2 separate regions of the Homo sapiens genome follow, and region 2 is linked to region 1. The links come from fine-mapping of genetic effects on gene expression. A gene starts in region 1. The other region holds a variant in brackets. All regions are shown on one strand. Distances are from middle to middle.

Region 1 (5,387 bases):
GTTTCGCCATGTTGGCCAAGGCTGGTCTCGAACTCCTGGCCTCCAGTGATCCACCTGCCTTGGCCTCTCAAAGTGCTGGGGTTACAGGTGTAAGCCACTGTCCGGCCGTAATTACCCATATTTATACCATCTAAAGATAATTACTGTTAACACTTAGTATGTATGTTTACTGTCTTCCCCTCCACCTCTAAGCATGTGTGTGTTTTGTTTCTGGAACATTGAATCCTATTAATCATGTAAATGAGGCAAAAACTCTCCAAATCATAGTTTGTAAAAGAAATCCAGCCCAACCACGGGTCACATTATGTCTGTGTGCATGTGGAGAGAAGAGAGATACCAGTCATGTTTCCTTGCTTTGAAAAATTAATCATTGATGAATATGAAAATAGTCACTGGATACCTTACAAATATGGACTTTGGAAATATTCCCAAGGTTATATGTGCAAGTAACGAATATTGACTGTAACATTTCAAAGGTATATGAAATAGAATGAGATAGCACTAGTTTAAAATGTTCACTTTTTTTTTTTTTTTCTTTTTTGAGATGAAGTCTTACTCTGTCACCCAGGCTGGAGTGCAGTGGCGCAATCTTGGCTCACTACAACCTCTGCCTCCCAGGTTCAAGCGAATCTCCTGACTCAGCCTCCTGAGAAACTGAGATTACAATCTCACCACCATGCCCGGCTAATTTTTGTATTTTCAGTAGAGACAGGGTTTCACCATGTTGCCCAGGTTGGTCTTGAACTTCTGACCTCAAGTGATCCGCTCACCTTGGCTTCCCAAAGTGCTGGGATTACAGGTGTGAGCCACTGCACCTAGCTGATAAGAATCTTTAAACTAGATTTTTTAAGGAACTATCATGTCTCTGTCTCCCTAGTTAAAAGGAAATAGCAGACTTGTTACTTTTATGAAAATGGATTGAGATATGTTACTGATTTTTTAGTAATAACAGCTACCTTATCTTAATTGTTATATATGACTGTGTGTTTCATGTGGATGATCCTGTTCAAACAGTCATACATTGTACTATCTTTCTTGTGGTTTTACCAGTGAGGAAACTTTACCACACTGTGAAGTTAATAACTATCAGAGCTCAGATTAACACCCTCAAATCAGACCACAGAGCCTGTGTTAATTTCACCAAAACATGTCTGCTCAAATTATATGTACCATTTTAACCTACCCTTTTCCCTTGTTGATTCTTCAGAAGTTTTCTTAATTAATGAGTCAGTATTATTAGGAAATGTACTCTATGTCATTGTATAACAGACCATGGTTTAATCTGATTTTCCTTTATCCTCCACTGCAAGATTTTCATTTTTAAAAATTATTCTCGACTGGGTGTGGTGGCTCACGCCTGTAATTCCTGCACTTTGTGAGGCCGAGGCAGGCGGATCACCTGAGGTCGGGAGTTCGAGTCCAGCCTGACCAACATAGAGAAACCCCGTCTCTTCTAAAAATACAAAAAAAATTAGCCGGGCGTGGTAGCGCATGCCTGTCATCCCAGCTACTGGGGAGGCTGACGCAGGAGAACCCCTTGAACCCAGGAGGCGGAGGTTGCAGTGAGCCGAGATCGCACCATTGCACTTGAGCCTGGGCAACAAGAGCGAAACTCCGTCTCAAAACAAACAAACAAACAAACAAAAAATTATTCTCTGGAAATTCTGGGTAACGTCAGTGGATTACATCAATGTTAATCTTCTGGTTGTGGTATTATATACTACAATCACCAGCTGAGGTAACCAGGTGAAAGGTACACAAGATCTCTCAATTTTATTTCTTGTAACTACATATGAATCTAAAGTCTATCTAATTAAAAGAGAAAAAGATTTTCAGAAAAAAAGCATTTTGTGAACATACTTCAACATTGTGTACAACTATAGCTACTTCCTTGGCATAAATACCAAAAAGTGGGATTTTGAGTCAAAATGAGACTGTGGTTAAGTACCTGCAACATCCTGTAGACCCTGTGACGTTAGTACTTGGAATGAGAGCGGGACTCACGGGGCATAACTGCTACCTGTACATTGTTTACAATGCAGCAAGCAAGGGACACCGAATAGCAGCTCCGGCAGCCTGTGCTAGCGGCCTGCAGAGAATTCCAGGTGACGCTCCAGAGGGGCTAGGAGAGGATACCCTTCTGAGGACAGCCATGGCTCGCCCGGCATCACCCCACTCAAGAGGCCAGACGGGGTCCCAGCTGGGGTGACACAGCTCCTTTCCCAGTCGGGAAGGGGCGTCTGCAGGGACCAGGAAGGGCTTAGCTTGGGGCTGCCCGCTCCGGCACCGACCTGGGACGCGCCCTGAGGCCCCTGCCTGGGACCGTCCCGGACTACATTTCCCAGAGACCATCCAGGAGTACGCCGTGCTGCATGCTGGAACACGGGGCTTGGGGCTCTGGTTTCCCCCGACGGCCCCGCGTCCTCTTCTAGCCTCACCCTCTCCCGAGGCCCCAGCGTTGGGGGACTACCGGGTGCGTCTGCGGCTTTGGGAGAGTGGGAGGAGGGAAAGGGATGGGAGGGGTGCACGCACACGTGTCAGTGTGTCCGCGTGTCAGCATCTGTGCAGGCGCACGTGTGTGTCGGGCTCTGTTGTGTCTGCACATGCGTGTCGGCATCTGTGCGTGCGCACACGCCCGTCAGGGTCTGTGTGCCCGCACAGGCACGTCAACAGCTGAGCACGCTATGTATCGGGGGTCTGTGTACGCTCACATACGTGTCGGGGTCTGGGTACGTGCACATACGTGTAGGGGTCTGTGTGCACATGCGTGTCGGGCTCTGCTGCTGTCTGCGCGCTGCGGCCGCTGGGTGCGCGTGCGCATGCGCGCTGGCCTCCAGGGGGTGGCGGGACCGAGTGTGTGACGCACTTGCGTGGGAGTACGAGGCTGACGCGGCGGCCCTGTCCCCGTAACTGTGACACGGGTGCACGCGAGCGTCATTGGGGGCGATGGGGGCCGTGCTGGGTGCGCGTTTGCACCAGTGACGCAGCCGCTGCATCTCCGCCAGTCCGCGCAGGTGAGATTGGTGCGCGTGGCTCCGAGGGGAGACGGGCACGGGGCTTCTGACGGTGACGCACTTGCTGGAGAGTGTGGGGTGACACAGCCGGGCTCTCCCCATAACTGGTGACCGGGGGTGCTCCAGAGGCTTTGGGTCAACGCAGCCCGTGCCTGTGAACCTCGGCGGTGCGTCCCTGGGACTCTGCTCCGTGAGGTGCGCTCTGGGGGTTGTGCGGGGGCAGCGGTCGGGACGGGTCTCCGTGGCCCACGGATGCACCTCTGCACCGTGTGGGGTGGTGGGGCCCGTAGCATGGCCGTGCTGGGCGTTAGTGGGTATGAGGGGCGCAGATGTGTCTCAGGACAGAGTGAGCTGTGGTGAGGCTGAGCTGTGCAGACTTGTGCTGGGATGGGTGATCGGGCCTTCTGGGTGACGCAGGTGTGTGTGACAACACAACCTGTAGCTTCAGCGTCTCTGTGCTGGGATGGATGATCGGGCCTTCTGAGTGATGCAGGTGTGTGTGACAGTGCAACTTGTAGCTCCAGCGTCTCTGCTGCTTCCCCTGCCTTCACCTCCTAACCAAGCGGTACCTGCCTGAGAACAAGGGCCGCGGAGGGACGTGAGCGCCTGAGCCTCGCCTGGAAATTCACCAGCAAGAAGGCAGAAACAGCCATGAGGTGACGCTTTCAGAGCCAGAAGTGCTGTGCATGCAGGCCACCTGAGTGACAGGGGACGGTGGCCTCAGGAGTAGAATTCCTCCTGTAGAGGGACAGGTCCCTGATGTGGGAGACAGGGAGGGGGGCAGCTCCACGCGTCATCATCTCAATCGCCACAGCGTGCTCTTCAGGAATCTCCCAGAAACTCCATCTCGGGGCCTCGTATTTCTCATTGGTTTTATTAGGTATGGCAGGTGTTACCCTTCCGGTTCTGTTTTCCCCAGGCCAGCATCCTTCAGAAAAAGCATCCCCGAGGAGGAAGACGAATCGTTAAACATCTGAAAGGGTCAGGTGAGTATCCTTTTTTTTTTATATTAAATGATATGTGTTTATAAGACTTAAGACCAAACATTAAAGGTAGATGACCAAGATTTGAGTCCTGTTTCTGCCTCTTAGCTTTTTGAGCCTTCTGAAGATAGGCTTGTGAGGAGGGTGAAATGCATTAACACGCATAAAACCCATAGACGCGCACCCCTGAGTGGGAGTGCACAGTGAGTGCTGCTGTTTTGTGCTAAGTCTGGATGTCTGTACATCAGGAGCAACGTACATATGAAGGTAACTGGGATGGGTGTTTGCAGGTTCACAAAATGAACCACAGCCTCAAATGGCCTAGAACTGTTATCCTTAACCTGAGGGCCTGCCTTTAACTCCACTTACAACTTTCCAAGGGACATTCTGTGTATATTTACTGTATGTGATTATCAGTGTTAGTGTATCTGTCCCCCACCACCACCACCCTAAGGAGATACTCTGTAATTTCATGGCATTAAGAAGGATGGACATGCCCCAAAGACATTTAGACCCATTGGTCTACAATCGAAGGCTGTGTACCTTGACCACAATTATTGTTCAGGATGGTGGAAATGGTTAAGTAATTATACCACGTTCATTTCATGGAATACTCTGCAGCTACAAAGAAGTAAGTTTAGTTATAACCGTAAGAAAGAAAAATGCACCTGACATAATATTAAACACTACTAATAGTTATTAACAATAGTAAATGAAGGAAATGCTTCAGTTGCCTACAAATTCCATTGAATAAGATTTTTGTAAATACCTTATCCAACATGACATTTTAGTATATTATTTAGGATTATTCATGAATCCTTCAAAAGAGAGGAGCCTGGCCACATTTATTGAGCGCATTTTTGTACCATACTCTATTGTGTTTTGCACACACTCCTTAATTTATTCTTACCTTAGTCTGTAACAAAGTACCATAGACCGGTGGCTGAAACCACAAACATTTATTGCTCACAGTTCTGGAGGCTGGAAGTCTGAGAAGAGGGTACCAGCATGGTCAGGTTCTGATGAGGGCCCTTTTCCAGGTTGGAGACTGTCACCATCTTGCTGTGTCCTCTCACGGAGGACATGTGTGTGCTTGGAGGCTCTTTGGCAGAGCTCTAGGAGGTGTGTGTGCTTGGAGGCTCTAGGAGATAGTCTTTTTTTTTCTGTAATTGAGATGGAGGCTTGCTCTGTTGCCCATGCTGGAGCGCAGTGGCACAATCTTGGCTCACTGCAACCTCCACCTCCCAGATTCAAGTGATTCTCCCGCCTCAGCCTCCCGAGTAGCTGGGATTACAGGCACATGTCACCATCCGCAGCTAATTTTTGTATTTTTAGTGGAAACAGGGTTTCTCCTTGTTGATCAGGCTGGTCTCGAACTCCTGACCTCAGG
Region 2 (5,387 bases), 25 kb before region 1:
GATTCAGAGGAAACATTTTACCCACTTTCAGTTCGAGTGATGGTGGGGAGTGACTTCAGTAAAAATGGCAGATTAGGGAACTCGGGGTAGGAGTGGGAGCTGTCCATCCCCAGAAATCTCAGAAGGCCCAGCACAACCTGCCAGAATTAACCTGATCGAAACTTGAACTTTTTTTTTTTTTTTTTTGCCATGTAGCTTTATTTTAAATCAGACCTTTATCTTACTATGTGTTGTAAAGAATCGATTTTGTCACTTTGTAATGTGTCTTATGCACTGCAGTCTATTTCTGAGTTGTGAGCTCCACCCATCTATCAGTCTGCCCATCAACCAACATGTCTTACAAGACTAGCTACCCTCATTTCGTTCTTTTTCAGAGTTTTCTTGATTATTCTTATTTGTGTTTTCACCTATGAGATTCTTGCAATAACATCCATAACTCCCAACTGAATGTATCTATATTTGAACCAAATTAAATTTATAAATTAGCTTATGAGCAATTGATTTTTATAATATTGATTTTTTTTACCCAAGTCCATGCTGTAACTTCTTATGTGTACATTTGTATATTTCAGAAATTTTCTATTTAATTCTTATATACATTTAACATATTTGTTAAAATTATTCCTAAGTATATTTTATTTTATTGTTATTTTGTAATTGCATCCCCACCCCAAATCTAACTTGTAAATTATTATCTCATATATATGTAAATACCTGCTGCGTGTAATTTAAGGCCATGTCATGGGTTCAAACTGATTCCTAACATCAACCATTCAATTTTCCCCATTCACTGGAATGACTACTATTCCATATCCACAACAAGAGCTGTTGGGTTGAGGGAAATCAGGGTGGAGATGAAGCAAAAGTGAAGAGAAAACATTATCTAACCCACGCATGCAGCAAAACAACCTCCCTATGGATCAATATGTAATTATCTAAAGTATAAAATACTTAGAAAATATTAATATTTATCTCATACTATACAATATGGAAATTATAAGGAAAAGACAAAAGAATACCCAATTACTTATATATTCCCTACATAAAAATATATACATTTATATGGTAAAAGATTGCATTATCGCAGTGTAAAATGAAAATAGGAAAACATATAACAATATGTAAAACAAGTGACAATATGTATGTTAGATTTAATATCCTATAGTAAAACAGGGTAAATTAAAACTATAAAATAGAAGAAAATTTAAATCCAAGTAAATCATATGAGCCAAAAACTAAATAAACTAAATAAATATAATCAATAAGCATTTAATACATCTTGACTCAGTTTAGATATAAAAGAAAGAAAAATCAAACAATAACATGGTGGTTTTGCCATGATGTCATCAAGCGTAAAAAGATAACCTTTCTCAATAGAGATGCGTCTCAGGTTTGTGGGTCTGAGTCCCTCATGGACTGCAGGTGAGAGAGTGAAGAGACACAGCCTTTTCTCAATTAAAGTAGAAGGATATAAATATATATATTTATTTTTGCTATACTTTATAATATACAAACACATATGGATGATTACACCCTAATATTTGCTGTGATTCTACAGAAATGCATGACTCTCAGGAGACATCCAAAAGACAGCAAATATCTCACACGAAACTGAATAGTGAACTTCATCCTCAATGAACCACAGAGTTCACCATTCTGAGTATATCGTTCAAGTTATTTTCCTATTTTCCTTCCGCAGGTTCTAGCATGTATTAACACCGTGTGTCTAAAGTCATCCCTGCTGGTCATCTGGAGGAATCTGAGAAGGGGCAGGTCTTTCTTCTGACTCTCAGAGCAGCACCCTCTGCTGGACAGGGCTGGGCACCTCATCTCAAGCCCAATCTGATCCACCAACAGGGTCTGTTATCTCCGGTCCGGGGAAGAGGTGGGCCTCTCTCCATCCTGGGAGGAGCGCTGAGCTTCTCCTTCATCCAGGGATGGGCCCCAGGGACGCGCCAGTGGGACTGGGAGAAGCCACCCTCAGCAGGGAAGACAGAGATGCCTGCGTGGCCGAGGCCTGGAAGGTCTGCACCATGGTGCACAGAGGCCCCGGAGCTGGGTGAGGCCAGAAAGCTGCTCTGGGGTCAGCGGGGAATGTGCCTGCTGAATCTGCAAGCACCTGAGCTACGTCTTCACAAATGGCCTCAGACCTAGAGTGCAGGGAGATCCCCTGGCTTTTCTGAAGTGGTGGCAGGTGGTCTCCTGGGTAGCAGGATCTGGGCTGCTTACTTCCCTTACCCAGTGAGGGCCCGCGGGGAGCTCTTAAGTTGGGCATCATGGGTCTGCGTGATGTGGCTGCTGTGCCCACATCAGAGGGTTTTTGTTTCTTTTCCAAAGTCAAGCTGCACTAATCTAGACCAGGGATCCCCACCCCTGGGCTGCGGACCGGTCCCCATGGGTGGCCTGTTAGGAACTGGACCGCACATCAGGAGGTGAGCAGTGGGTGAGGGCGCATGACCACCTGAGCTCTGCCTCCTGTGAGATCAGCAGCGCCACTGCATCTCAGAGGAGTGCCAACCCTACTGTGAACTGTGCATGCGAAGGATCTGGGTTGCATGCTCTTTATGAGATCAAACTAATGCCTGATGATCTCAGGTGGAACAGTTTAATCCTGAAACCATCCCCCCGTCTGTGGAAAAACTGCCTTCCACCAAACCAGTCCCTGGTGCCAAAAACGCTGGGAACCGCTAATCTAGACAGTTCTCTGCTAAGGAAGCACATGGTTGAGAAGCATCAGAATCGTTCCCACGGACCATGCTCCGGAGTCTCAGCAGGCTCCTGCAGGTGAGCCCCACTGGCCTCTCCTCTTCCTTC[T/C]GGACCTCCTCAGCTTTGGTAATGGAAAGCTGCATCCTCTTCTGTCCCCAGTTCCTCTCTGGGTGTCAGGATCTCTAAAACCCTCTCAGCCGCTGAGAAATCTGTCTGTCTGTCTCACAGTGTGTTTATCCGTGCATCATGAAGGACCCTCATACGGCTGACGTGCCTTGGCTGATGCGAATAACACTGCAGCAAGCGTGGGAGTGCAGATAGCTCTTGGAAATACCCATTTCCTTCAGACGCATACTCAGAGGTAGGATTGCTGGATTGTTTGGTCATTTTGATTTTTAAAATTAAAAAGAATTTTAATTCTCATATTGTTTTGAGTAAAATTAAATTATAACTTGTAAGGCAACTCCATGTTTTTTAGAATTTTTAAAAATATAATTGCTCTACCAATTGACTGTCCCAACAACAACGTACAGGGGTATTTTTTTTCCTCCGCATCCTCACCACTTGTTACCTTTTGTCTTTTTAATAATAGCAATCCTAAGACATGTGAAGTGATACCTCACTGTGATTTTGATTGGCATTTTCCAGATGATTAGTCTATTCAGGCCCTTTACTTTTTTTCGTTGTTGTTGTTGTTTTTGAGATGGATTCTCACTCTGTTGCCCAGGCTGGAGTGCGATGGCACGATCTCGGCTCACTGCAACCTCCGCCTTCCGGGGAGGCGTGATTAGCCGCCACACCTGGCTAATTTTTGTACTTTAGTAGAGATGAGGTTTCACCATGTTGGCCAGGCTGGTCTCAAACTCCTGACCTCAGGTGATCCACTATGCTTGGCCTTCCAAAGTGCTGGGATTACAGGTGTGAGCCACCACGCCCAGCCCCTTTGCTCATCTTTAATAGGGTTATTACTATTATCATATTTGCTTTTGAGTTGTGGGTGTTCCTTATATATTTTGGATATAAACTCCTTATCACGCATAGGGTATATATGGTTTAACATATTTTCTCCCATTATCATGCCCCAATATCACTAAGTTATATTTCACAGCTCCCTCTTGAACACCTGAAAAAATTCCTAATATATTTCCATGTGTCTGTATCCAGGTTATTGTGGTTTTTGCCTGAAAACACATTTATATATGCTGATATTCCCCAATAACTAATATATTTTTTCTCTGTTTTTTTTTGAGACGGAGTCCTGCTCTGTTGCCCAGGCTGGAGTGCAGTGGCACGATCTCAGCTCACTATAACCTCTGCCTCCCAGGTTCAAGTGATTCTCATGCCTCAGCCTCCCGAGTTGCTGGGATTACAGACACATGCCACCACACCCGGCAAATTTTTTTGTATTTTTAGTAGAGACGGGGTTTCACCATATCGGTCAGGCTGGTCTCAAACTCCTGACCTCAGGTGATCCACCCGCCTTGGCCTCCCGAAGTACTGGGATTACAGGCGTGAGCCACCGCGCCTAGCCCTAACTAATATATTTTAAATAACTTTTTGCTCTTGGCACATGGACTAAAACCACATCACTAGGCCTTCAATGACGTCCAATGTCTGCCATCTTATTTCCACTCCAGCTCCGCCCCAGGCATAGTTGCTTTTCTTTTTATTGAAGCCTTCTCCTTTTTTTTTTTTTTTTGAGACAGAGTTTCACACTGTCGCCCAGGCTGGAGTGCAGTGGCGCGATCTCGGCTCGCTGCAAGCTCCGCCTCCCGGGTTCACGCCATCCTCCTGCCTCAGCCTCCCGAGTAGCTGGGACTACAGAAGCCCGCCACCACGCCCGGCTAATTTTTTGTATTTTTAGTAGAGATGGGGTTTCACCATGTTAGCCAGGATGGTCTTGATCTCCTGACCTCCTGATTCACCCGCTTCGGCCTCCCAAAGTGCTGGATTACAGGCGGGAGCCATGGTGCCCCGCCAAAGCCTTCTCCTTGCCAAGTTAATTAAAGAGAATGTTTTCTTCATCAAATTAGAAATTACATCCTCAGAGAAGCTTTCCAGTATTTGTAGTTCTTACAGGCCACATTTATTACAAGTTTATAGACTCCAAACTTCTTCACTGAACAGTTAATAAAAAGGACACAGGCTTATTGTAAAATAATTCATTTAGTGCCTGCCATTCTGATTACACTAGAAATTTAGTTCTCCTGCTCCGCGTTCTGTTATGTGACTGTTCAATGCATTACTTAAAACTGCAAGATTGAATAGAGAGATCAGCTTCTAACATTGATGAATGCAAACCACAAGAAACCAAGTCTCCTCTGCAAAATGATGAAAACACTCGCAAAGTCACTAAAATCAATCATTTCAGACTTCTGAAATTTACCAAAGCCACAGAACAAAGTGAAAAGTATCTATCCCACAGAAAGTACCAAACTTCAGTAAGACAGCAGCATTTGTGTCATTTTAACATGGGCATTTCTGTCACCCTCCATCCTTCGTTCATTGTGGAGCACTGACTTTGTTTGGTTGGTTGTTTGTTTTTGAGACGGAGTTTCGTTCTTGTTGCCCAGGCTGGAGTGCAATGGCGCGATCTCGGCTCATTGCAACCTCCGCCTGCTGGGTTCAAGCAATTCTCCTGCCTCAGCCTCCTGAGTAGCTGGGATTACAGGCATGTGCCA

Which allele goes with the higher level. Positions count from the first base shown, and alleles are read on the strand shown. Sizes are in standard deviations (SD) of each study's normalised expression.
With allele T in place of C in region 2, the expression in lymphoblastoid cells of the gene that starts at base 2,863 in region 1 is lower (large effect, 0.88 SD a copy in TwinsUK).

What was found. PIP is the estimated chance that this variant, and not a neighbour inherited with it, causes the effect.
Region 2: its variant is fine-mapped to the expression of ZNF331 in lymphoblastoid cells (TwinsUK, PIP 0.95).

The regions. Positions count from the first base shown.
Region 1 is chr19:53,535,283-53,540,669 of GRCh38, forward strand. ZNF331 (zinc finger protein 331) reads left to right here and starts at 2,863. Exons shown (of 6, transcript NM_001079906.2): 1 at 2,863-3,014; 2 at 3,934-4,000. RefSeq lists enhancers at 2,591-3,107, 2,893-2,942.
Region 2 is chr19:53,510,264-53,515,650 of GRCh38, forward strand. It overlaps a transcript of ZNF331 not described here. Among named protein-coding and RNA genes, the nearest start is that of ZNF331, 25 kb to the right of the region's middle. The variant T/C (reference allele first, on the strand shown) is at 2,815.